Homo sapiens: one gene and its partner. The protein of the gene in region 1 binds, or shares a complex with, the protein of each later gene. Each region holds a gene or a part of one and is shown on either strand. Other genes may lie near its edges. A codon is read from its position in the direction of its gene.

Evidence for each region.
Region 2: the proteins of VEGFB (region 1) and FLT1 are in contact, whole or in part, in a crystal structure (PDB 2XAC), measured with the Homo sapiens proteins. Residues at the interface, in NP_003368.1 of Homo sapiens: Ser37 (codon at 8,930), Trp38 (codon at 8,933), Ile39 (codon at 8,936), Tyr42 (codon at 8,945), Thr43 (codon at 8,948), Thr46 (codon at 8,957), Cys47 (codon at 8,960), Gln48 (codon at 8,963), Pro83 (codon at 9,068), Asp84 (codon at 9,071), Asp85 (codon at 9,074), Gly86 (codon at 9,077), Leu87 (codon at 9,080), Cys124 (codon at 9,435), Arg125 (codon at 9,438), Pro126 (codon at 10,300); in NP_002010.2 of Homo sapiens: Tyr139, Glu141, Pro143, Phe172, Pro173, Tyr199, Ile202, Gly203, Leu204, Asn219, Leu221, Arg224, Thr226.

What each region holds. Positions count from the first base shown.
Region 1 is NC_000011.10:64,226,889-64,238,194, forward strand, and holds the start of VEGFB (vascular endothelial growth factor B isoform VEGFB-186 precursor), read left to right. Parts: upstream 1-7,695; 5' UTR 7,696-7,945; coding exon 7,946-8,005; intron 8,006-8,569; coding exon 8,570-8,612; intron 8,613-8,924; coding exon 8,925-9,121; intron 9,122-9,365; coding exon 9,366-9,439; intron 9,440-10,298; coding exon 10,299-10,334; intron 10,335-10,531; coding exon 10,532-10,745; coding exon of another isoform or gene 10,746-10,767; intron 10,768-11,306. Other genes in the region: uridine diphosphate glucose pyrophosphatase NUDT22, read left to right, coding at 1-244, 513-605, 680-778, 2,359-2,456, 2,590-2,683, 2,962-3,102; DNAJC4 (dnaJ homolog subfamily C member 4), read left to right, coding at 3,967-4,052, 4,983-5,076, 5,542-5,726, 5,813-5,977, 7,006-7,225. UniProt on the Homo sapiens protein: Growth factor for endothelial cells. VEGF-B167 binds heparin and neuropilin-1 whereas the binding to neuropilin-1 of VEGF-B186 is regulated by proteolysis.
Region 2 is NC_000013.11:28,313,059-28,328,161, reverse strand, and holds part of FLT1 (vascular endothelial growth factor receptor 1 isoform 1 precursor), read left to right. Parts: intron 1-611; coding exon 612-700; intron 701-5,215; coding exon 5,216-5,372; intron 5,373-5,802; coding exon 5,803-5,900; intron 5,901-6,576; coding exon 6,577-6,699; intron 6,700-8,627; coding exon 8,628-8,739; intron 8,740-9,243; exon of another isoform or gene 9,244-9,633; intron 9,634-10,564; coding exon 10,565-10,664; intron 10,665-14,381; exon of another isoform or gene 14,382-14,555; intron 14,556-15,103. UniProt on the Homo sapiens protein: Tyrosine-protein kinase that acts as a cell-surface receptor for VEGFA, VEGFB and PGF, and plays an essential role in the development of embryonic vasculature, the regulation of angiogenesis, cell survival, cell migration, macrophage function, chemotaxis, and cancer cell invasion.

The DNA of each region.
Region 1 (11,306 bases):
CCTGCGCCTGGGCCTTACTTCCTACCGAGACTTCCTGGGCACCAACTGGTCCAGCTCAGCTGCCTGGCTGCGACAGCAGGGTGCCACCGACTGGGGTGACACGCAGGCCTATCTGGCGGACCCACTGGGGGTGGGCGCTGCACTAGCCACAGCCGATGACTTCCTTGTCTTCCTGCGCCGCTCCCGGCAGGTGGCTGAGGCCCCTGGGCTGGTGGACGTACCTGGTGGGCACCCTGAGCCTCAGGTGAGATTCCAGGCTGGGCACAAAGACCCAGACAGCTCAAGGGAGCTGCAGCTCTCCACCCTCCCAATCCTCCCAGCTTTGGTTTCCTCATTCCTTAAAGGGAAAATTGGCCTGGTATTTCTCTGGAAGTTTGCTCAGGGCAGTCCACCTGCCTCCCCACTGACCCCTGCCCCAGTCCTGTGAGAAACTAGAAAACACGGGAGGAAAGATTGGGCACAGGAAGAAGATGCCCTACTCCACCCCTGCCCCCTGTGTATCTCCTTTGAAGCTGGACCTCTGGTTGTCTGTCAGGGAAAGGACACCAGACTCAGGATCACTAACTCTCTTACACTGTGCCACATCAGACCCTCAAGGCCAGCAGGTATAGGCTTGCTGGTCCTGAGATGGGGCAGGGGGAAGAGGTGGGGAGCAGGGGCTGAGCCTGACCTCTCACAGGCCCTGTGCCCTGGTGGCAGCCCCCAGCACCAGGACCTCGCTGGGCAGCTGGTGGTACATGAACTCTTTTCCAGTGTCCTTCAGGAGATCTGTGATGAGGTGAGTGAGGTTGACCTGGACAGGGTGGTAGACATGAAGGGAGGGGGTAGGACTTGCCAGAATTCTACAGGTCTGGGCTGGCAGGAGGCCTGCAGGCATCTGGCCAGCAATGAGGGAAGAAGTTGGCTTTGCAGCTATACATACTTGGAGTGGAATTCTAGCCCTCAGTACCCTCTGCCTTGGATTCTTCTTCTTTTCTTTTTTCTTTCTTTTTTTTTTTTTAGACAGAGTCTCGCTCTGTTGCCCAGGCTGGAATGCAGTGGCACGATCTCTGCTCACTGCAAGCTCCACCTCCCGGGTTCACGCCATTCTCCTACCTCAGCCTCCTGAGTAGCTGGGACTACAGGCATCCGCCACCATGCCTGGCTAATTTTTTTTGTATTTTTAGTAGAGATGGGGTTTCACCTTGTTAGCCAGGATGGTCTTGATCTCCTGACCTCGTGATCTGCCTGCCTCAGCCTCCAAAAGTGCTGGGATTACAGGTGTGAGCCACTGCACCAGGCCGGATTCTTCTTCTTTTTTTTTTTTTTCTTTTTGAGACAGAGTCTTGCTCTGTTGCCCAGGCTAGTGCAGTGGTGGCATATCGGCTCACTGCAACCTTCGCCTCCTGGGTTCAAGTGATTCTCATGCCTTGCCCCGCCAAGGATTCTTCTTTTCAATGGAAACAATGATAAATATCTTGCCTACTCCCCAAGTCTGTTGAAAAAGGAGTAAGTGGCCGGGCGCCGTGGCTCATGCCTGTAATCCCAGCACTTTGGGAGGCTGAGGTGGGCAGATCACAAGGTCAGGAGATCAAGACCATCCTGGCTAACACGGTGAAACCCTGACTTTACTAAAAATACCAAAAGTTAGCCGGGCGTGGTGGCGGGCACCTGTAGTCCCAGCTACTCAGGAGGCTGAGGCAGGAGAATGGCGTGAACCCGGGAGGCGGAGGTTGCAGTGAGCCGAAATCGCGCCACTGCACTTCAGCCTGGGCGACAAAGCGAGACTCCGTCTCAAAAAAAAGAAAAAGGAGTAAGTGTGGCAGGGTGTGGTGGCTCACACCTGTAATCCCAGCACTTTGGGAGGCCAAGGCCAGCGGATCACCTGAGGTCAGGAGTTCGAGACCAGCCTGGCCAACATGGAGAAACCCCATCTCTACTAAAAATACAAAAAATTAGCCAGGCGTTGTGGCGTGCACCTGTAATCCCAGCTACTCAGGAGGCTGAGGCAGGAGAATCACTTTAACCTGGGAGGCAGAGGTTGCAGTGAGCTGAGATCGTGCCACTGTACTCCAGCCTGGGCGACAGAGCGAGACTCCATCTCAAAAAAAGAAAAAAAGAAAAAGGAGTAAGTGGGAGTCCCAGTCACTAAATTGACTTCTCTTGGGTGACCTTGGGCAACGTGTTCAATCTCTCTGGTTTTGGTGTACCTGTAAAACAAACATGCCCATCATCTGACATTCTGTAATGCTGGGTCCTTGATCTACAAGCTATAAAATGCTGTACACAGGTAACAGGCGGTTTTTCATTGAGACGGGCAGGGATGTGGGCAGTGGCATTGATAGGTGGGACCTCCCCCCACCCCACCCTCCACCGCAGGTGAACCTGCCGCTGCTCACCCTGAGCCAGCCCCTGCTGTTGGGCATCGCCCGAAATGAGACCAGTGCTGGCCGAGCCAGTGCCGAGTTCTATGTCCAGTGAGTAGGCTCGGGTACATGATCCTGGGTCTTGGGAAGGTGGGTGGTGAGGAGTGGGCTGAGGCAGCTGTGGCTCCACAGGTACCCCGCAGGGGCTGGTCACCCACTAAGCCACCCTTGTGTTCTTGTCCAGGTGCAGCCTGACTTCTGAGCAGGTGAGGAAGCACTACCTGAGTGGGGGACCCGAGGCCCACGAGTCTACAGGAATCTTCTTTGTGGAGACACAGGTGCAGAGTGACAAACCATCTTGCTTGGAGGCCAGGGCTGGGGCCTGCAGAGGCCTGGCAATGCATATCTTGTAGGGGAGGTGTTGGCTGGGTCACAATTCCCTCCAGAGTCACAAGATTTGCCCTCAGTGCAAGGGAAAGGTCCAGGGACATGTTCAGCCCCTTAACATGCCTCCCTAAGGACAGTGCAGAGGTCTCTGAGGCTCAGGAATTCTGGGCACAGCCCTGGCAGGAGAAGTGGCAAGCTTGAATGCCTGGGTCTCGTTGTCTCCCCACAGAACGTGCAGAGATTGCTCGAGACGGAGATGTGGGCTGAACTCTGCCCCTCGGCCAAAGGCGCCATCATCCTCTACAACCGGGTTCAGGGAAGTCCCACTGGAGCGGCCCTAGGGTCCCCAGCCCTACTCCCGCCGCTCTGAAAATAATAAACGACTTTATTCTTGGATTCCGTTGGCATCTGCTATTTCTGTAACAGAGAGGAGCAATGGGCCCTGAGTGTGTAAGGCAGGACAAGTGACTTGGGAAAAAAAAAAAAAAAAACCCGCCCAGCCTGTGTCCCCCTCTGCAAGCAGGGGATAAGAACTGTGCCTCCCTTTCTTTGCTGGCTCCAGAGAGGCTCCGGGGCGGAAGCAGCTCCGTAAGATATACCTCGCTGCAGAGGGGAGCAACAGCGGAACGGAGACACGGTGGCCGGGCCGAAAACGTCACAAAGCCGCAGAGAGCGGGCTCTGTCCCGCCCGCTCCCCAGGTGGGCGCCCGCGCCTGTCCAGCGAGTCCGCAGGCTGGGGGACCGGAGGCACCAAAGGCCAATAGACATGTAGGGGCGGGGTCTCCACCGATTTTTTTTTTTTTCCTGACAGGTGGACGTGGTCTTGGCATCCACGCCAATGAGAATGTGAGGGCGGGGCCTGAATAGACGCAGGAAATGGCGACGGCCGCGGGTCTGTGAGCAGCGGGGGCGGGGCCTGGTTGTGGCCCCTCCTTCTCCCGTCCCCAAGTTCCCTGGGTGGGAACGGGGTCTTGGGGTCCCTGGCTGGGTGGCCAGACCCCGAAGCCAGCGCTGGGAAGGGCTGCGGATGCCCGGGTCAGAGGAAGGGGCAGGTCCAAGGACACGCGGGTCTGGTCCTGGGCAAGAACCGCCCCCTCTCCGGGCCTGCTTCAGTCTTCCTTTGCAGAACAACGGGCCAGGCCCCTTCCCTCTGCCCCCGGGTGCTTGAAGTCTAGCCCCATCCTGGTCCAATGCGCTCTTGGTAGCCTCCTTTCCCAGCTGCCCGCCCGCCGCCATGCCGCCCTTACTGCCCCTGCGCCTGTGCCGGCTGTGGCCCCGCAACCCTCCCTCCCGGCTCCTCGGAGCGGCCGCCGGGCAGCGGTGAGTTGGGCGCGGGGGGCCGGCCCGGTTGTTCAATGGGTTTCTGTTTGCCCTACGTGCTGAGTTAGTTGTGGTCTCTACTCCGTGTCAGGAGGCTCCCAGGTTTGTCTCAGGTAACCCTCGCCTTCCCTGCTGAGGATCAGAGATAGAGAAGACCCCCAAGGTCATACACCGATTTAAGCGGCAGAGGAGGAAGTTTGAGTCCAGGTCAAACCCAACGCTCTTACCACAGCTCTAGTGGTTTCCAAGCATCGCTGTATCACTGTGCATAACCCTCTGTGGGGGGTGGGAGATGGGGAGGTGTCGGGTACAAAATCCAGATTCCTGGGCTCTGCTCTGGAGATTCTGAACTGGAGGAATCAATTGGGTGGGGGTCAGGAATCAGTTTCTTTCTCTTTTTCCTTTTTTTTTTTTTTTTTTGAGATGGAGTTTCGCTCGTTGCCCAGGCTGGAGTGCAATGGAGCAATCTCGGCTCACCACAACCTCCGCCTCCCGGGTTCAAGCGATTCTCCTGCCTCAGCCTCCCGAGTAGCTGGGATTACGGGCATGCACCACCACGCCCGGCTAATTTTGTATTTTTAGGAGAGACAGGGTTTCTCCATGTTAGTCAGGCTGGTCTTGAACTCCCGACCTCAGGTGATCCGCCCTCCTCGGCCTCCCAAAATGCTGGATTACAGGCGTGAGCCACCGCGCCTGTCCAGGAATCAGTTTTTTCCAACAAGTTTTTGGACTCCACTTTGAGAAATCCTGACCTGCACTATGCCTGAAACACTCCAAAGGGGGTGCTGATCTGGAGACAGATCTGTCCTGGGACCTGTTTCAGCCCTGTCAGCTCCTGGTGGCTGAGTTGAAGGGTGTGGCCCAGAAGGCAGGGCAGAGCTAGCTTCTGGGTTCCTTCAGCCCCTGCAAGGTTTGGGACTCTGTCCACAGGTCCAGACCCAGTACTTATTATGAACTGTTGGGGGTGCATCCTGGTGCCAGCACTGAGGAAGTTAAACGAGCTTTCTTCTCCAAGTCCAAAGAGGTACCCGTACCCCTGAGGTGGGGAGGGGGAGCAGGAACTTTGAGCCAGTGGGGGTGTGCTTCAAATTCCCAGGAGTAGACCAGCATCTCTGGCGGGTGCCACATTTTTTCAGCCCTCATAGGGAGTGGCAGGTGCTCAATGGTAGGGGAAAGGCTGTGGGCAGGAGCCAGGGGTCCTGTCTGATGGGCTGGGCTTGGTTTTCTTGACCTGCCTGCCTGCTCTTGAGAAACCTGGACCAGGGCATATGGTGAATGCAGGGGGCTGGCAGGTGGGGAGGGCTTGAACACAGGAGGAAGCAGGAGTCCATGCTCTCTGGCCTTCTGAGGAGTGGGCAGGCCTGAGTGAGGGTCACTGACCAGGCAGGGCCTCTGGGTATGACTGGAGCCCTGGTGGGTGGATGTCATCAGCATGGGTCCTGGGGAGGGACAGGCAAAGGGAGATAAGGGGAGTCCTGCCCCACCCCAGCTGCACCCAGACCGGGACCCTGGGAACCCAAGCCTGCACAGCCGCTTTGTGGAGCTGAGCGAGGCATACCGTGTGCTCAGCCGTGAGCAGAGCCGCCGCAGCTATGATGACCAGCTCCGCTCAGGTAGTCCCCCAAAGTCTCCACGAACCACAGTCCATGACAAGTCTGCCCACCAAACACACAGGTACAGTAATCCTGCCCTCAGCTTGCCCCACCCCCAGGTCTCTTGGGTAGTCTCATTTCCACAATGTCCCTTCCTCTGCCTCCCAGCAGCTCCTGGACACCCCCCAACGCACAGTACTGGTCCCAGTTTCACAGCGTGAGGCCACAGGGGCCCCAGTTGAGGCAGCAGCAACACAAACAAAACAAACAAGTGCTGGGGTACTGCCTCCTCCTCATGCTGGCGGGCATGGGCCTGCACTACATTGCCTTCAGGTGATGCCTGTTCTCCCCGGGGTGATGGGCAGAGGGCAGGAGGGTGGGTGAATTCCAGTGTGGTCAGCCAGTCCTCCACAGCACCTCGTGGCCCGTACTCTTGTGTCTCTCAAGCTAAGAGCTGCTTGAAGTTGGTCTCTGGAGCCTCTCCTTACTTATTAAAGGCAGCGCTGCACCAAGAGCTAACGTTGTCATTTACAGTTTTTCATATTTCGAATGTAAATCTTTCATGCTGGCTGCCAGGAAGGGATTGAGCCAAACAAAATCAAGCACAAGCAGCAAATGCAGCACAGCTCATTCATTTGGCAGTAGGCATCTCCCTGCCACTCTCACGCGTGCCACGGAGCTGATTCTCTTTATTCTCTTTTTTTCTTTTTTTTTTCTTTGAGATGGAGTCTCACTCTGTTGCCCAGGCTGCAGTGCAGTGGCGCAATCTCGGCTCACTGCAACCCCACCTCTGCCTCCCAGGTTCAAGCAATTCTTCTGTCTCAGCCTCCCGAGTAGCTGGGACTACAGGCGTCCACCACCACACCCGGCTAGTTGTTTTGTATTTTTAGTAGAGATGGGGTTTCACCATATTGGCCAGGCTGGTCTCAAACTCCTGACCTCAGGTGATCCACCCGCCTCAGCCTCCCAAAGTACTGGGATTACAGGTGAGAGCTACCGCGCCTGGCCACAAAGCCGATTTTCTATAGCAGATACCTAAAGGCCAGTGCCCACTGCTAGCAGCCTGCCTAGTTCAGTGATGGAGTTAGACGCATACCCTTTCTAGTCTTCTGGGAGGAGCACCCCCATGTCCACAGCTGCTGTCACACCTCAAAGTGACCAGGGACTTCGGATGCCATTGGACCCTAGACAAGCCAGGGCCACTCTGAGCCCTCCCTATCTATCACAGGAAGGGTTAGACTGAGGTTCCTAACCCTGTGTAAGGGTAAAAAGCTGTGAGGCCCCTAGAGTGGGGTGGAAGGGGGCAGGACTTCAGGGACAGCAGGAATTGGATTCCCAGGGTTAATTGTGACCCATTGCAGGAAGGTGAAGCAGATGCACCTTAACTTCATGGATGAAAAGGATCGGATCATCACAGCCTTCTACAACGAAGCCCGGGCACGGGCCAGGTCTGTCCCTGCTCTATTCTGCTCCCTGCTCCCTGTCCAGGAACCACACTTCGGGATCCCTATCCCAACCACCCAGGTGCCCTCTCCTCCAGGGCCAACAGAGGCATCCTTCAGCAGGAGCGACAACGGCTAGGGCAGCGGCAGCCGCCACCATCCGAGCCAACCCAAGGCCCCGAGATCGTGCCCCGGGGCGCCGGCCCCTGAGGGGCTCACCTGGATGGGGCCTGCAGTGCGTTCCCGCTTTGCTTCCTTCCCTGGACGGCCCGCTCCCCGAAACGCGCGCAATAAAGTGATTCGCAGAGCTCGTGTCCGGCTCCCTCCTTAAGGCCCGACGCCCCCGGCCCCGGCCTCGCCAAGGGGCAGCGCCCCGCCCTCCGGGTAGTGGCGGCGGCGACTGGGGAGCCCAGCCTCCTGGGCGGTGCGTCCCCTTTCCCCTGCCGCGGCGGGAGGCGGGAGGGGGTGTGTGGAGGAGGCGGGCCCCGCCGACGGCCTCGCCCCCCCACCCCGCCGCCCCGCCCCCGCCCCACGGGCCGGTGGGGAGCGCGTGTCTGGGTCACATGAGCCGCCTGCCCGCCAGCCCGGGCCCAGCCCCCCGCCGCCCCCGCCGTCCCCGCCGCCGCTGCCCGCCGCCACCGGCCGCCCGCCCGCCCGGCTCCTCCGGCCGCCTCCGCTGCGCTGCGCTGCGCTGCCTGCACCCAGGGCTCGGGAGGGGGCCGCGGAGGAGTCGCCCCCCGCGCCCGGCCCCCGCCCGCCGCGCCCGGGCCCGCGCCATGGGGCTCTGGCTGTCGCCGCCCCCCGCGCCGCCGGGCTAGGGCGATGCGGGCGCCCCCGGCGGGCGGCCCCGGCGGGCACCATGAGCCCTCTGCTCCGCCGCCTGCTGCTCGCCGCACTCCTGCAGCTGGCCCCCGCCCAGGTACGTGCGGCCCGACAGCGCGCCCGCCCGCCCGCCGTGCCCTCTCTCAAGGTTGGCGGAAGTGAGGAGGCGACCCGCGGCCTCGGCCGAGGGGATCTGCGGGGTCCGGCCTTGGACGCGGGCGTCTCGGGGGCCCGGCGCGTGCATCCCCTGGGAGGTGCCCCTCCCCGCTGGCCCGCCAGCCCCAGTCTGGGGCCACTCCTCCGCCCCACCCCGTCCCCTGGGCACCGCCGGGGGCGGGGCTCCCTCGGTGCCTGCAGGACCTGCTTCGGTGGGCACTGTGCGCGCTCCTGATCTGCATGCAGCCCCCAAACATGCTCGGCTCCGCGGCCTGGAGATTTGGCGCGGCCACCAGAGCACCTGTTGCGTTTTGGGCCAGGGCAGGTCCCGGGTGGCCAGGAGAGGACAGGTAAAGCTAGAGCAGTGGCCGCAGGAACAGAGCAATCTGGAAAGATGTCAGAGAGGTGGTGAAGCCTACTGATGCAAGGGCAAAGCCCCAGGGACGGTGACAGGGCCACACCCTCCTAAAGTGTACCTTGGGTACAGGTCTTTTCTCTCCCACAGGCCCCTGTCTCCCAGCCTGATGCCCCTGGCCACCAGAGGAAAGGTAATACTTACAAAAACTCGGCACTAGCCAGCACTAAGAGGGTTTGTCATGGGCCCTGATTCCAGGTGTCCATCATCTTGTGTAACTCCCCTAGAAGATTCAAACTATTATTCTACCCATTTCACAGAGGAGGAAATTGAGGCAGTGGGGTTACTGGGATCTGGATAAACAGGGCAGGGGAAGACAGGTTGTGAGGGCAGAGTGGGGAGGGCTAGTGGAGGGTGGCTGTGACTTGGGGACTGGGGAGGACAGATGCTGGGAGCAGCTGCAGGAAAACCAGTGAGGACTTAACCCCTACCGGTCTGCTCCCAGTGGTGTCATGGATAGATGTGTATACTCGCGCTACCTGCCAGCCCCGGGAGGTGGTGGTGCCCTTGACTGTGGAGCTCATGGGCACCGTGGCCAAACAGCTGGTGCCCAGCTGCGTGACTGTGCAGCGCTGTGGTGGCTGCTGCCCTGACGATGGCCTGGAGTGTGTGCCCACTGGGCAGCACCAAGTCCGGATGCAGGTACTGGGCAGGTGGGGCAACGGGCAGGGGATGCAGGTACTGGGCAGGTGGGGCAGCGGGCAGGGTGGATGCTGGCTGGCTCTGGGGCTGGGGCAGCCTGGAGACTGATGCACAGGAGACAGGGTTGGGGGGAGGGCTGGTGGCCAGCCTCCCGGCTGTTGGGTGAGCTTTTCTCCCTTCAGTCTTAGAGCATCCCCTTTCTCTCTCTCCCTCACTGTCCCCCCTGTTCTTCTCCTGAGCACAGATCCTCATGATCCGGTACCCGAGCAGTCAGCTGGGGGAGATGTCCCTGGAAGAACACAGCCAGTGTGAATGCAGGTGCCAGCCAGGCCCAACTTCTGAGCTCGCAGAGGCCAGGCTTGGGGGGTGCTGGGTATGGTGGTCCACAGAACTGGGGACCAGGTTCCTAAGAGTAGAACCAAGGGGCCGGGCGTGGTAGCTCACGCCTGTAATCCCAGCACTTTGGGAGGCCGAGGCGGGCGGATCATGAGGTCAGGAGATCGAGACCATCCTGGCTAACATGGTAAAAACCTGTCTCTACTAAAAAAATACAAAAAATTAGCCGGGCGTGGTGGCGGGCACCTGTAGTCCCAGCTACTCCGGAGGCTGAGGCAGGAGAATGGCATGAACCTGGGAGGCGTAGCTTGCAGTGAGCCAAGATCGTGCCACTGCATTCCAGCCTGGGCGACAGAGCAAGACTCTGCCACAAAAAAAAAAAAAAAAAAAAAAAAAAAAGAGTAGAGCCAAGGGTAGGCCTTGGATCTGGGGCAACAAAGTAGGATGCTTGGGCCGGGGGTAGTGGCTCACACCTATAATCCCAGCACTTTGGGAGGCCCAGGCAGGCAGATCACCTGAGGTAAGGCGTTTGAGACCAGCCTGGCCAACATGGTGAAACCCCATCTCTACTAAAAAAAAATACAAAAATTAGCCGCGCATGGTGGCAGGTGCCTGTAATCCCAGCTACTTGGGAGGCTGAGACAAGAGAATAGCTTGAACCTGGGAGGCGGAGGTTGCAGTGAGCCGAGACCACGCCACTGCACTCCAGCCTGGGCAAGAAGAGGGAAACACAGTCTCAAAGAGAGAGAGAGAGAGAGAGAGAGAGAGAGAGAGAGAGTAGGATGCTGGGATTTCCTGATCTTCCTCTTGTTTGTCTGTGTCTGTCTATCTTACTTTTCAGACCTAAAAAAAAGGACAGTGCTGTGAAGCCAGACAGGTGAGTCTTTTGGACTCCAGCTGAGTAGGGGTATGGGGAGTACAAGTGAGTCCAGAAGCTGTTGCTCCTCTTTCTCCTCCCACCCGTCCCCCACTTTCCCTTTTCCTCTGCTCCCCAAGCCTGTGTTCTCTGCCCCGACCCCAGCTCTAGGGAAGACTCTTCCTTCCCACCCCAGACATGTCGCTTCTCCTCCCTAGGGCTGCCACTCCCCACCACCGTCCCCAGCCCCGTTCTGTTCCGGGCTGGGACTCTGCCCCCGGAGCACCCTCCCCAGCTGACATCACCCATCCCACTCCAGCCCCAGGCCCCTCTGCCCACGCTGCACCCAGCACCACCAGCGCCCTGACCCCCGGACCTGCCGCTGCCGCTGCCGACGCCGCAGCTTCCTCCGTTGCCAAGGGCGGGGCTTAGAGCTCAACCCAGACACCTGCAGGTGAGGCGTCTGTGGGGTGGTGTTTGTTTGGGAAGGCACCAAGGCCCTGTCCTGGAGCAGGTCCAGGGTGAGCCTGCCAGTAGGAGGAGGGCCAGGGAAGGGGAAACTGTTGAATGTGTTGAACAAATATTTACCAAACAGCTGCTGGCACCTGGAGCTGTATAAGCAAGTCCAACATTCTAACTCAGGAGTCAGATACAGGAGGGACAATGCCAGCAGAGGATGTCAAGGGCTGTGGTGAGGGGTACCTGGCCTCGTCTTTCAGAGGTCAGAGATCTCTTGGAGGAGGTGACATCTGCCCGGAGTAGAAATGTAGGACACAGCTTTTCCAGCTTGCAGTTCGGGCCTTCCCAGAAGCCCCTGTGGTAGACATCTGCCCTTACCTACGGGCTTCAAGAGGCCAGGGGACATAGTGGAACCCTTGTCCACCCTTACCTGATGTGTTTCTCACCATCCGTGTCCCGCAGTGAGGCCATGGGGTGAAATCATATGGGCAGGGCCAGTGGGGGCTCCCGAGGAGTGTCAGGAGGGGATGACCT
Region 2 (15,103 bases), on another chromosome or scaffold:
CAGTCATACTTGTTTGGTTGTTTCCAGGCTACAAAGGCAGAATTGAGTAGTAGCTCCTTGATCTGCAAAGCCTAAAATGCTTACTAGCTGGACCTTTACAAGAAGAGTTTGCCGATTCCTACTGTAGATCCTCTGGCAAGCCCCAAGGCAAATCGCGCAGACACTGCTGGCGAGAGACGGCCAGGTAGCCGTCTCTGTCGTGGTAGGGAGGGAGGAGCTGCTTAATAGTTCCAGGACTGGTGTGACAGTAACCAGAAGCCGCTCTACTCGCAAGGGTCTGGTTAAGAGGCAGGGAGGCTGGCTTTTGCCTCTCCCCTCCTCAAACGTATTTCTGTCCTTCTTCCAATCTTTTCTCTCTAATGCTTCTGCACTGCCCCTCACCTCCTTTTTTTTTTTTTTTTTTTTGTATTTCAATTGTATTCTTTAAACCCCTTCTTAGGTTAAACTGAAAAAGTCACCGTATTCATGGGCCTCTCATCCCTAAATCGCATCCCTTCGCCCCACTAATACAAAGGCTGGTTGGTTTGAGGTTTCTCAGGCAGGCTGAAGGCTGGCAAATGGCTGACTGGCTTGGTGTGGCTGAGCATGAGCATGTGCTGTTTTGGCTGCAGGGCCTCTGATGGTGATTGTTGAATACTGCAAATATGGAAATCTCTCCAACTACCTCAAGAGCAAACGTGACTTATTTTTTCTCAACAAGGTAAGGATTTCAAAAGTTGGAGGTTTTTAAAGATAGCAATGAGTTTTCATTTAGTCTGTAACAACATAAAGCAAGAGAAACCTGTATTGTGTTGTTAATGATTAAACTTAAAACTCAATCTCTGCTTCTTCTCCTTTTTTCATGTTTTTTCCCCTGATAATCTGTTACACTCTAGTGTGGATAGCACAGAGAATCATTTGATCCCTGTGTGCGTATGCAGCCATAATTGGAGAGTAAATCTACTAGCCACTTATCTAAATATCTAACAATAACTTTCTCTCTTTCTCCCCCTATATATGTGTGCATGTGTACATACACGCAAACATACATACACAAGTCACTTATTTCTTTAAGGAAGATAATAGTTAATATAATTGTCTCCATTTATTAGGTTAGATTTTGACTAAGGCTAAATCAACTGAGTGACTTGACAATCAGCAGTAGACCAATGATGTGGCCAGGGCCAAAAATCATTATCTTTCTTTTCCACTGCCCTTTCCCCTACTTCCTGACACCCTCACTACCCATGTCATCCCTACATATACTCTGAACCAGCCTTATTAAATAAAAGCTGTGTAGTAAAAGGAACATGTGGACCCAAGACCTAAGGGCAAACAAGGTTTAAAAGAGATTATTGGGCCAGGCACGGTGGCTTACGCCTGTAATCCCAGAACTTTGGGGGCTGAGGCAGGTGGATCTTGTGAGGTCAGGAGTTCGAAACCAGCCTGGCCAGCATGGTGAAAACCCGTCTCTACTAAAAATACAAAAATTAGCCAGGCGTGGTGGCCCGCGCCTGTAATCCCAGCTACTAGGGAGGCTGAGGCAGGAGAATCGCTTGAGCCTGGGAGGCTGAGGTTGCAGTGAGCCGAGATCAAGCCACTACACTCCAGCCTGGGCAACAGAGTGAGACTCCGTCTCAAAAAAAAAAAAAAAAAAAAAAAGAGAGAGAGAGATTATTGAATGGAGGAGAAATAATTTACTAAAACTTTGCCAGTGTGACATATGGCACCAATACTGTGTCCTTCTCTGAGCTGAAGAAGTCCAGGGGACAGTGATTCAACATTATTAACCAGTAATCAGCAACACTGGTGATGAACCCATGTAGTGTGGTGGTTAAACATTGAGACTCTGGAATCAGACTTCCTGGATTCAAATCCTGTCTCTACTTCTCATGAAATCTGGGAATGCAAATTACTCAACCTGTCTGTTTCAGTTCCCTCGTTTATTAAATGAAGCTTATAATAGAATCCAGCTGATGGGATTGTTGAGAGAATAAAAATCTCTCAGTCAAACATTCAATAAATGTTAATCATCACTGTCACCACCACTGTCATCATCATCATCAACATCATTGACCTACTAAGATAGAAAAATTGGGTGAGTCCAACTTCGTACCACTGATCTACATGGTGGATAAAATGTCTGAAATCCAAGAATGATGCCCATCTTTATAATGTGGGCAAGAATCTTCACACACAAATAAGAACCACTGGACAGCTGGCCAATTTTCTCATCCCTCAAACTTTGATCTAATTAAAGACAGAGATGTTCTACCGGACCGGCAATATATGCAAGAACATCATTTTCCCCAGGTTTAAGTCAGGTCCTCTAATAATAAGAACCTTTTTTTTTTTTTTTTTTTTTTGAGACAGAGTTTCTCTCTCTGTCAGTCAGGCTGGAGTGCAGTGGTGTGATCTCAGCTCACTGCAACCTCCGTTTCCTGGGTTCAAGTGATCCTCCTGCCTCTACCCTCCCAAGTAGCTGGGATTACAGGAGCCCGCCACAACGCCCAGCTAATTTTTGAATATTTTGGTAGAGACGGAGTTTCACCATGTTGGCCAGGCTGGTCAAACTCCTGACCTCAGGTGATCCGCCTGCCTCGGCCTCACAAAGTGCTGGGATTACAGGTGTGAGCCACCGTGCCCGGCCTAATAATTAGAATCTTGAAACTGAAAGGGATCTTTGTGATCAGTTGGTTCACACTCGCAGGCTGCAGATGCGTTCAGAGAAGTCAAGTGATTCGCTTAAGGACACACACCTACCATGAGGTGAAGTCAGAAGGTGAAAGAACTCAGCTCTCTTGACTCCTCCTCCACTGCCTTTTCTGTGCACCACACTAAATGAGGTGAAAAAAGCATAAGAAAAAGTGGAAAGTGGTGCCTTGGGCTGAGGGCAGTACAAATTCCCCTTAGTACTGAAATTTTGGACTGGCTTCAGGAAGAGCTAAGCCAGCAGAATACCCTAGGGACCTGGGCAGGATGGAACGTTTGGGTTTGTGCGTCCTTTGTTTTGAAGAGTTTGCTTCCTTCTCTGGCTATATTTAATGATTTGCCTCCCTGTGCAACTTGGTGGAGCTTAGTGTTTTTGTGGAAAATCCATGGCTGTCTTTCATATTTGGAAGATAAAGGTAAAGGAAAGGCAAAACCAAAAGGCTAAATTGAAAATGGAATACTTCATTTTCCAAATAAATTAACTGGGATCCTTAAATATGGTTTGTAATAAATTCACTATATTCTGCCAGAGTCCCAAGAGTTCAGTAAATTACCTTTATTTAACAAAAGTGGTACTGATAAGCAAAGCTGAATATACAATTGATTGGGAGTCAGGAAGGGAGTGAGAGAGCCTGAGTTTTGGTCCTTGGAGACATGCCTAGGCTGTGACTTTTGGGTGCCGTGGGGAAGAAGGCTGTCCAGGGAGAGTTTTCACATGCAGAGCCCTGAGTGAGCCTGTGGAGCATTTTTCTCCCCATGCTATTGCCAGCGCTTTCTCTGATGCCTTCTGTCCCACAAAGGATCTTGTGAAAAATAAAATTCCAGTCCCCAACTGAACAGAATCCAATATAACTGCATTGTGGAAACACAATAACAAATAGTGAAAGTCTTTACCTGCCCTCAGGTGGGTTACCTGCAATGGCAGTGGGTATTCACTCTGAGGCCTGCCTCCCTCTGCAACCCCGGAAGGTCTCTTTTCAGGGGCTGGGAACCTTGGTGCCCTTTTGGCTTTTAGACTAGGTTAGGGCTGTCCCTCCTGAAGCTTTCTCCCAGTGCTCTGCTTGCTCCCACTGTGCCCTCTAGTGGAGGGATCACTCTTGCTTTGTGACATTTCTAGAAAAGCCCAGGAAGGATGGGGTACGCGGGTTAATCCTAGAACTGCCACACCATGCAAATGGATCAAGGGACACCACTGAACTCCAGTCCCTCTCTGCTTCTGCCTCAGTATTGCTGTCTAGCAGAATCTAGGCTACAAACATGGTCTTGTTATAAAGCCACTGAAAGTGCTAGGTTTTAGAGTGTCATAGTTACTAGATGAATTACAAAAGGCAATAAAAATCTTTTCTGGTTTCCCATGAACACCCAGAACTGACAACTCCTTTCCTATGAATCATAAAATAATAGTATAATAGAGCTTTTCAGAAGAGGATAATTAAACTCAGAAAAGTAAGGTGACTTGCCCAAGATCGCATGATTAATGGAAGAGCCAAATGAACCAGGGCTTGGATGTGCAGTCCAGGGTGAAAGGCCATTGCTACCCTTGTTAGGATCAAACTGTATCTTTGTTTAAATGGAAGAGAAAAAAAGCAATGTCCATGTTCCCTCCTTCCCCAAAGAAACCTGAGAAATTGGTAACTATAGCCTTCTCTTATAACTCCTCCTAGGGATTACAGAGTGAAGCACCAAGCACACTGAGGATCCTTTCCTCTCAGTGATGTCATCCTTCACAAGATGGCGTGTGGCATGGAAAAGTGGTTAAGGGCACAGATGTGGGCATCGACCAATCCTGGGTTCAAGCTTTGCTTTTTTTTTTTTTTTTGAGATGGAGTTTTGCTCTCGTTGGCCAGGCTAGAGTGCAATGGCGTGATCTCGGCTCACTGCAACCTCCACCTCCTGGGTTCAAGCAATTCTCCTGCCTCAGCCTCCTGAGTAGCTGGGATTACAGGCATGCACCACCATGCCCGGCTAATTTTGTATTTTCAGTAGAGACGGGGTTTCTCCATATTGGTCAGGCTGATCTCAAACTCCCGACCTCACGTGATTCACCTGGCTCGGCCTCCCAAAGTGCTGGGATTACAGGCGTGAGCCACTGTGCCCGGCCAGCTTTGCTATTTATTAGCTGCATGTGAATTTGATTACTTTACTTCTCTGAACCTGTTTCTCCATGTATAAATAAGAACTACTTCGTAAAATTGTTGGAAACACTAAACAAGAAATGTACCTAAAGCTTTTAATATACCAGCTCACACAGAGTAAGCATTCAGTAAATACCCACCACTCTTAATTTTTTTTTTTTATCTGATCTAAGATGCTGTCTAGAAGCCCAGGCAAGAGCACAATAGACTCTGCAACTCCAGAGGTAGTCAGGCTCCTGGACACCGTAGGGCCCCTGTGCTAGTTCACGATCCATTTTGAGAAGTGAAACGCTCTCATTTCTCATCAGGCGATTGCCAGTTGAGGGACTGGTTTCCCACTGCTGTGCTGGAGCTCCTTTTCACCTGGGTCCTTTTCGGTCTCTTCAAAGGATGCAGCACTACACATGGAGCCTAAGAAAGAAAAAATGGAGCCAGGCCTGGAACAAGGCAAGAAACCAAGACTAGATAGCGTCACCAGCAGCGAAAGCTTTGCGAGCTCCGGCTTTCAGGAAGATAAAAGTCTGAGTGATGTTGAGGAAGAGGAGGGTAGGTATTAATTCCTTCCTGTCCTACGCGCTGAGATATTTTTACAACATACTATGCATCTCTGAAATTTTTTTCTTATTTATCACTCTAATAAACATCCGTGGGAGACTCGAATGGTAATGTCCTGAGGAGATAAGATTTGAATTAAGATAATTTACAGAGTTACTAATTTTGACAGGGAACTGTACCGTTTTCTCCCCTCAGGGATTTTCATCTTAATGGATCATCCCCCTGCCCCCATGCTTGGATAAAGTGGGCTGGAGGCCTGGAAAAATCTCTGGTGTTCATGTTGAAACTCAAATACTCTTAAAAATGAACTCTGATCTACTTGTTGGTTTGTTTTATGTTTTGCTAACATTGTTCCAATAAACTGGGATTTGGTGGGATAACAAGAGCCATTACAAACAGTTACGGTTCTAATGCTTTCCAGATTCTGACGGTTTCTACAAGGAGCCCATCACTATGGAAGATCTGATTTCTTACAGTTTTCAAGTGGCCAGAGGCATGGAGTTCCTGTCTTCCAGAAAGGTCAGTCTTGCTGTTTACTGTTTTTCTTCTCTGCCAGGGCTGGACACACACCTTTGCTATAAATTCATTTTTCCTAGTATTTGCTGATACCTATGTTCTTAAATGTAGAACAAACACCACTGCAAGTGCCTTAATTTGCCTTGATATGAGGAGTTTTGAGAATGAGGAGTCATGGATACCAGTGGATAGAACTTAATTCTGGGGAAAACTCACAGGTTTCAGACTAGACAAACCTGGCATCGGCTCTCCACAGTATCCTCTGGCATATTTTCAAATCTGGCCCAAATCTCAGAAGACATGACTTCATAGGAGAGCTACTATTAATATAGCCATATAGGGCCCTCCCACAAAACTGCAGCTGGAGAAAGATCTCATCTTGGCAGCTCAGGATAAAAGACTGTGGGGAAAGTTTGCCCACTGGTAAATCTTAGATAACCAGCTTCGCTGATCAAATAGTAGCCCAGTGGATTCAGACCATTTCTTGACTTTGAGGGCTTGGGGACCTGTATTTGTAGAGAGGCTCTTCATGTTTATGGTAACTCTGTGTGCACCGAGAGGTGCTCCCTTCACAGCATGTGAAATGGATTCCCAAATTAAGATAATGACACTGACAGGTGTAGGAAATTAGTTGGTTAGGTTAAGGAAATGCATTGATTATGCAACTGTTTTATTATAGTGCATTCATCGGGACCTGGCAGCGAGAAACATTCTTTTATCTGAGAACAACGTGGTGAAGATTTGTGATTTTGGCCTTGCCCGGGATATTTATAAGAACCCCGATTATGTGAGAAAAGGAGATGTAAGTCAGTTTGATGTTTATTTGACTCATGTGTGTCCTATCACTTTTAAACCACAGACTTGGTAAATATTTACACTTCCTCAGCTGTAGTCCCTGAAAACCATCATTGGCTTTCTGTGAAGACAAACAGTCCAGATGAGCGGCATCCCAGAGAGCCCTTGTGTAAGGCTCAGAAAGGCCACTGTCTCCTGCTTCTGCTCTTCCCTAATGCCTGGCCTCCCACCTGTCCTTTGGGCAGCGCTGCGTGAGACTTGCTAACCTGAGAAGTGTTTGGTGGGGCCTGGGTGAGACCTTAGCATTACCTTCCTTTGAATCCTGAGGGAATTCCTTGTACCACTGAAAAGAACAGCCTGGACTCTTTCCCTCAAATAAACCCAGATGATTGATTCAGCAGGTGTATCTGTCTCAGGAAAGGGCGGGGAAGACCGTCAGCAGTAGCTGACTATGGAGGAGACTGTTTACCTCCCATGGCCTTCCATGCCTAGCATCTCCCCGCTGGCTCGTACTGGCTTCTCTTCCCTGCTTGTTTTTAGACATAGTGTTATTTTTCACTTTTGTGGATGACCTCCCATGTCCTCCCTTCTCCTTAACCCTCAGCCTATATACCCTGAGGGTTAAGCTTATGTCTGGGCGCCAATGAGTTACAGTAGTGGTTCCCAGCTTAATTGAACATACATATCACCTAGAAGGCTTGTTACGCTACAGTGTGCTGGCCTAACAAGCCTTCCACCCCCCAGAGTTTCTGAGTCAGTAACTCTTGGGTGGAGCCTGAGAATTTGCATTTCTAACCAGTTTCTAGACCAGGGGTGTCCAATCTTTTGGCTTTCCTGGGCCACATTGGAAGAAGAAGAATTATCTTGGGCCACACATAAAATACACTAACACTAACAATAGCTGATGAGCTAAAAAAAAAAAAAAATGCAAACAAATCTCATCATGTTTTAAGAAAGTTTACGAATTTGTGTCGGGCTGCATTCAAAGCTGTCCTGGGCCACATGTGGCCCGCGGGCCAGGAATTGGACATGTTTGTTCTAGAAGGTGCTGACACAGCATGTCCCAGGACCATACTTCGAGAGCCACTGCACCAGAATCTGTTGTATAGAAGGAAAACATATGACTTCACATTGATCCTTTGTAAAAATAAAAAAATAAAAATAAAGGAAAACAGACTTTCCTTGGGGCCCTGGTCTGGAGAGATGGCACCAACCTTCATGTTAGTCCTCCCCTCCTTTCTGTTCGTCTGTATCTGAGTCAGCCTCCCTGCCCCTCCCACTTCCTTTCTCCTTGTCTCTCCTTTATCCCATACCTCCCATCAATCCCCATCATCTAAAGTGGTGAGGCCTAACTCACTGGGATTCCTGCTATCTGAAAGAGAGGAAGATTTGTCTACATGTTTGAAAACTAACTGTATATTCTCTTTCAACACTGACTTCTTTCCTTCTTCTCTTCTTTCTGATGCTTTTGCACACTCTCCCTATTCAGTGACTTTGGAAATCTTGTCTTTTTGCATAGGAATGCTTTCAAAATCCTCCTTTGGAAAAATTTTTGGAAACCACCACCAGTTTTCAGGATATCTTCAAATTCAGATCACTCTTTTCCTTTTCCAAGCCCTGAGTGTGTCCCTGTGGAGTGCAGGCTTTCTTTGTGGGGGAGGATTTCTCACAGAGCTATGCAGATAAGGACATGCTGAACACATCAGAGGGGCTTACTGAACATATACTGCCTTCATGGGACTCAGTATAGCACTCTAGCTCCCTCTTTTAGCGTAACACTGCATACTATGGTGTTCTCTATGTTAGGAAACCAGAGCTGCTCTCGGAAATGATTTATAGGCCGTATGTTATCTGGGAGGTGACCCCATGGACACTCGGGTTGAATGTGCTTTGTTTTCATGCCCTTCTGCTCAAGGCCCCCTTGCCCTCTTCTAGACTCGACTTCCTCTGAAATGGATGGCTCCTGAATCTATCTTTGACAAAATCTACAGCACCAAGAGCGACGTGTGGTCTTACGGAGTATTGCTGTGGGAAATCTTCTCCTTAGGTAAATTTGGGAGAAGGAAGAAATCAAACAGCCCAGAAATAAATGTCTGCATCTTCTGCTGAATGTCCTTTGGTTAGACAGCCTTTAGATTAGAACCTACTGTAACAAAAAACTCTTAAAGTGTAATGGGCCCATGTAGACTCTCAGATGAGTAATGGCGTACGCATGTCTGCCCTCTACTGTAAAAGGGCTTTATATGATCATGAACAAGGTCAGAACAAGGTCATGTAAAAGGGCTTTATACGATCATGAACAAGGGTATAAAGTCTGAAGCAAAGTACTTTTTCTGTACTTTGCCCAATTCTGTCCTTTTCCAATTCCTCAACACCCACACCTCTAATGCCCTTACCGCTTCCCTCCCCGCGTCTCCCACCACCTCAGAATTTCTTCCTAGGAAAGGCCATAACAAGCTCAGCTGCCCCAGCGAGGAAGGTGTTGTTAGAAACAGGAGACCTTTCCAGTGCCTCTGATATGAACACATGATATGGCTCTGGACACTGGTTTATACAGGATAAGCAATAAACAACACTGGTTGTATTTATTCTGCTTGCAATAACATCCACTATGGGTGGCTGGAAGTCCTGTTCAAAGCACACAGATGCGTGCAGAGCCCACATCTGCTTGCAGACACACAGTGATGATCTGAGGCCTCTAAAACTCAAGTTCTCGCCAAGAGTCTTTTGGGCTTTGCCAAAAATTTGCCTTTCACAGCAAATAAAAGTCACCCAGTAACATCCCTGGTTTCCTGTAATGTGTGAAAATCATTCCCCTGCTTTCGATGACAGGCACCTGTTGCTTCCAGTCTTTGAAAGCAGCTTGGCGGCTGCAGTGGTCCTGCGATGACACGGTGCCAGCACTGCACGCCTCCCAGCTGCTTCCTACCAGCAGTAATCACTAGAAAATGCACACAAACAAATGCTGAGGTAGATGAGGCTGCAGGGCTAGAGCAAGAGTGCATTAGAAGGCCTTGCCACCCCCAGCCCTGGCAAGAATCCCCCCAAAAGGAAAGGTTGCAGGGGAATCCTGGGCAGTAAAGCTGGCAGAAGGCAAAGCCTAGGCCTCTCTGGCGCCCTTAGGTCTGCAGACTCCTGGCCACGGGCAGCCCCCACCCCATTCCACTCCATTCAGCCCAGCCCTGGAGCGCAAAGCCCCCCTTCCCTCAGGCCTGTCACAACTCCTAGAGCCCTGGTACTATAGGAAGGTTGCAAGAAAGTGAATTAAAGTCATTCCCACTCAAGTGTGAATGATTCCTATGTAGCCTATCCCAAGTCTATTGGCTTTTTAAAAAGAAGCCCAAGCCAAGTGTGGTGATGGTGAGCACCTGGAGTCCCAGCTGCTCGGGAGGCTGAGGTGGGAGGATTGCTTGAGCCCAGGAGTTCGAGGCTGCAGTGAGCTAAGATCATGCCACCACACTCCAGCCTGGTGACAGAGGGAGACCCGTCTCTTCAAAAAAAACAAAAGCTCACTAACCCAAAGGATGAGTCTCTAATGATGGGACTTCTTTAGTTACTTGTGGGGAGAAGGCAAGGACCCTTCAGACGACACCCCTTCCTCTGACCACACAGGCAGAAGTAGCCATAGGAATAGCCTGTGAGCACCAGGTGCCCCGCACCATGTGACCACCCAACCAAGCGGGTGTCCTTAGCAAGGATTTGCTGAGCTTCTCTGTGTGTTGTACGGTATGTTGAGATCTGTTGTAATCCCTGGGAATTTATTACTAAAACGTAGCTTTAAAGGGAGGAAAGAAACACTGAATTGTCCCCTCTTGGTCTTTTGTACCCTTAAGCCATAACAGGCCCTGTGTTTTCCACATTGTCTCCCGCAGGTGGGTCTCCATACCCAGGAGTACAAATGGATGAGGACTTTTGCAGTCGCCTGAGGGAAGGCATGAGGATGAGAGCTCCTGAGTACTCTACTCCTGAAATGTGAGCCCTTGGTGCCCTCTGCTCCCCATCTGACAGCTCGCTTTTCACCAGGGCATTCCTGAGAGGGGATGTTTTATGGATTCTTAGAGTCCCAGTCTTGGAAGATGCCAAGGTTCTTCTTTCCTTTAGAGATGCTCCCCTCAGCCCATCAGGCCCAGATATGCTGGGAGTGTTTTCTTGCAGTGGGGCACGTGGCCCTTGACCCATCCCTACCTATTTCCTGTCCTGACCACTGACATGACTTTTCAAGGGCTCTAGCTGGGAACTGAAGTTAGAAATTCAGTTTCTAGGTATGAATCCAGGCAAAACAAACAGACCACCCAGGAACTGAATGCAAGACCTTGGCCTCACTCACGGAGTGGGAGCCAAACAGGCCTAGCAGCCCCAGGGATGGAGGGCTAGACCTTGGTCTTGTGACCAGTCCTGTGTCTGCACAGAACACCCGTGAGGGGGTTGATGTGGTCTGCAGAACAGGTCTTGGAGAGGAAAAGGGGAACTTCCTGATGTCATGATTATGCTTCACAGAAGGCTTTGTGGGCAATACAACTTCTTTAGAATCCTTTGGGAGGAATAGGGGCCGGGCGCAGTGGCTCACATGTGTAATCCCAGCACTTTGGGAGGCAGAGGCGGGCGGATCACTTGAGGTCAGGAGTTCGAGACTAGCCTGGCCGACATGGTGAAACCCCGTCTCTACTAAAAATACAAAAGTTAGCCGGGCCTGGTGGCAGCTACTTGGGAGGCTGAGGCATGAGAATCACTTGAGCCTATGAAGCGGAGATTGCAGTGAGCCAAGATCACGCCACTGCACTCCAACCTGGGTGACAGAGTGAGATTATGTCTCAAAAAAAAAAAAAAAAAAGAACCTTTTAGGAATAGGCCCAGCAGCTGTCTGAAGCTGCCTGGTCAGATGGCTTTTCGGGTGTCCATGTGAGGCTTTCTCCACTGTGCAAATTGCACTTGCTTGCCTGTCTTGGACACTTTTTTTCCTGGGGCTTTGTGGATGTTTTGCACTTTGAGGCCTGAGCAGGAATGTGATGACACTTGCACTTTTGTGGAGCTGCTGACAAGGACTTGGGCCTCCCTGAGGCGGCACCACCTTTCCTGAACTGGCAGGGGCCCTCCCATTCCACCCACACAATGGGGTCCTGTCAGAAGCCCTGGCTGGCCTTTCAGAAGGAATCAGAGGGAATGCAGGAAGTGTGGGCTTGGCCAAAGGGCAAAGTCACTGTCTCTTTCCTTCATCATCTCGGGGTAAGGGTAGGTCAGACCCAGGATGGGGAACTGGACGAGGTGGACAGGAGACTCAGGCCCAACAGCAGGGCTGGGGAGCTCTGCCTGAGCGTAGGGAAGCGGGAGGGGACCTGTTCTTGTCACTGGTGCGTGGTGTCCTCATCAGAAAAGTACAGGGAGCTGAGGCAAGGCCTGTTTCTGAGAGCTGGGGATAGAGCTAGATGATTAACTTTATGATTTTCTAAGTGTTTTCCCACACATAGTCTCATTTGAAGTTCCCAGAGACCTTGAGGGGTGGTCAGGGCAGCTATTGTAATCTGAATTTAGCAAGTAATGAAACTGAGATGCCGAGAACTGAAGCAATGTGCCGTCTGTCAGCTGAGAAGCAAAGGAGACATTTAGAACCCAAGCCTCTGGACTGATGTCCCTAGACCACGGCTGATGAATTAGGAACAGACCCCACGTTCCTCAGTAGAAATGCTTCTCTGATATGGCCACTCATGCTTTGAATTAAATATGTCCTTCCAATCTTCATATAGTCTGAAAATCTCGAGAAAGTTCTCAATTACACTAATAGTTGTTATTATTAAATAACAATATTTTTACATCAAAATAAATGCAAAACAGTATGAAATTAAGTTTTATTTTTACTTCCATATAAATTCTAAATAGTATGAAATTAGTTTAGTTGGGTTTTTTTGTTTGTTTTTTTGAGATAGTGTCTCGCTCTGTTGTCCAGGCTAGAGTGCAGTGGCGTGATCTCAGCTCACTGCAACCTCCACCTCCTGAGTTCAAGTCATTCTTTTTCCTCAGCCTACTGAGTTGCTGGGACTACAGGCATGTGCCACCACGCCTGGCTAATTTTTATATTTTTTTGTAGAGATGGGGTTTCTCCATGTTGGCCAGGCTGGTCTCGAACTCCTGAGCTCAAGTGATCCACTGGCCTTGGCCTCCCAAAGTGTTGGGATTACAGGCGTGAGCCTCCATGCCTGGCCTGAAATTAGTTTTTATTATAACAGTATTGAATAGTACTGATTAAATAGTTATTTGGTGCTTATAAGTGCCACTATTTTAAGCATTAATTTATTTAATGCTCATAACAGTCCTATAAAGTAGGACTACCATGATCCCCATTTCACAGATGAGAAAACAGGCACCGCACATGTAAGTGATTTGCTCAAGCCTGCGTTGGTAATAAGCGAATTCAGCTTGAGTCCAGAGTCCACAGCACCATCCTACACTGCTGCAGAGTGTGTTTCCCATTCATACCCAGGCTGTGGTCGCAAATAACTCAGAGGTACAAAGTCACATCAGCTTTGGACCAAAAACTGCTTTGGACTTTCTCAAACCTTCAAGTCTTTACATAAACCTCGCTCAGGTAGCTCCCGTGCCTCAGGTGACCTAGAGAGAGTGGTATGGTTCCTTAATTCTGAGGAGGGAGAGATTTTAGAAATTTTAAAAAGTAAGAAGCTCTGTGAAATATTTCCTCAGAAGGCCAGACTTCAAACCTTCAGCCATTTTCTCCAGCATGTGAAAGCTGATGGAGTAATTTCCTTCTTGTTTGTTCTAACAGTAGGAAGGGCTGGGTGAGGACCAAGTGCAGCTTCTCAGAACTGGGATTCTGTGATCTGAACTTGGCCTAAAGCGGTGTGTATTTGGGAACTTGGGTGATAGCTTGGAAAGAAAACTTTCTGGGGGCCCCTCATCCCCAGCTTGGATGCAAGCTAATGTCTCATAACTTTACTAAACCCATTTACTTAGTGGTACAAAATCTTGTAACATTGAGTTGTTGGTTCCTGGCCCAGATACTGTTGAATCAGATGTCTTTCAATAAGGGAATAAGCAATGAATTTTTTTATTTTTTTTTTCTTTTCATTTGATGTTTGCTGAGATGATTTGCATTGGATTTTAGGCAAGAAGAGTGGAAACTAGAAATCGGAATCCAAGAGTCAAAAGTAACAAACAGCAAGTGGTTGTAGATGGTTCCGTTTACGAGTGTCAGCAGGGAAACTAGGGAGTGTCCTGCTCAGGATGGTGCATCTCCCAGACAGCAGCTTGATCCTGTGGGGAGACGATGGTGCAGGAGGAGACGAGCCCAGAGCCTCTGCCTGAAGGCCTCTCTTTGGAGCCCAGCCTCAACCTCCCAGGCTCAAGTGATCCTCCCGCCTCAGCCTCCTGTACTACAGGGACTACAGGCATGCATCACCATGCTTGACTAATTCTTGTATTTTTTTGTGGAGATAAAGTCTCACTATGTTGTCCAGGACGATCTTGAACTCCTGACCTCAAACGATTGTCCCACCATGGCCTCCCAAAGCATTGGGACTACAGGTGTGAGCCACCACACCCGGATTCTTCTTTTTTTTTTTTTTTTTTTTTACCTCCCTGTATTCTTACTGCCTTTGGCAGCCACCTCATATACTTTGAAACAAAATAGAAATATACTTAAGAGATATCTGGAGCCATTGGCGCCCCCTAAAGGCATACCTCTAAGAAGTGTCAGAGGGAGGATATGAACTAGGGTTTCTCAGGTTTTTTCCCCAGCAACCGCCATCTCCCAGCACAAGTAATGTCTGCAGTACAGCTGAAGAATTCACAGAAGGAGCAGAGTTATCTCTTCCCGGAGACCAGTCTGACTTCTTTTAGCAGATATTTATTGCCCTGTGGTAGGCGAGAGGTGTGGAAATGAGGCCCAGCCCACATAGTGCTTACAGCCCAATTCCCACCCAGAGCCAAATTCGGAGCCCATTCAGGTTTGAGTGTAAGTCAGAGTCCCTTCTCATCCAGACCATCTTCTGAGAGAAGAGTTAACATATAATAAACATCCCTTGAAGAGCACAAGGTTCAAGAAGAATCAATTCTTAATGCAGTGTGTGTATGGACCTCTGGCCTGTGTTTTTCAGAGAGGGCGGTAGGTACAGACCTCGATTCCGTGCAGACATGACCAAGAGAGGAGCCTGATACCTTTACATCTAAAATGTAAAGAAGAGGCCGGGCGCAGTGGCTCACGCCTGTAATCCCAGAACTTTGGGAGGCCGAGGCTGGTGAATCAATTGAGGCCAGGAGTTCGAGACCAGCCTGGAAAACATGATAAAACCCCATCTCTACTAAAAATACAAAAATTAACCAGGTGTGGTGGTGGGTGCCTGTGATCCCAGCTACTCAGGAGGCTAAGGCAGGAGGATCGCTTGAACCTGGGAGCCGGAGGT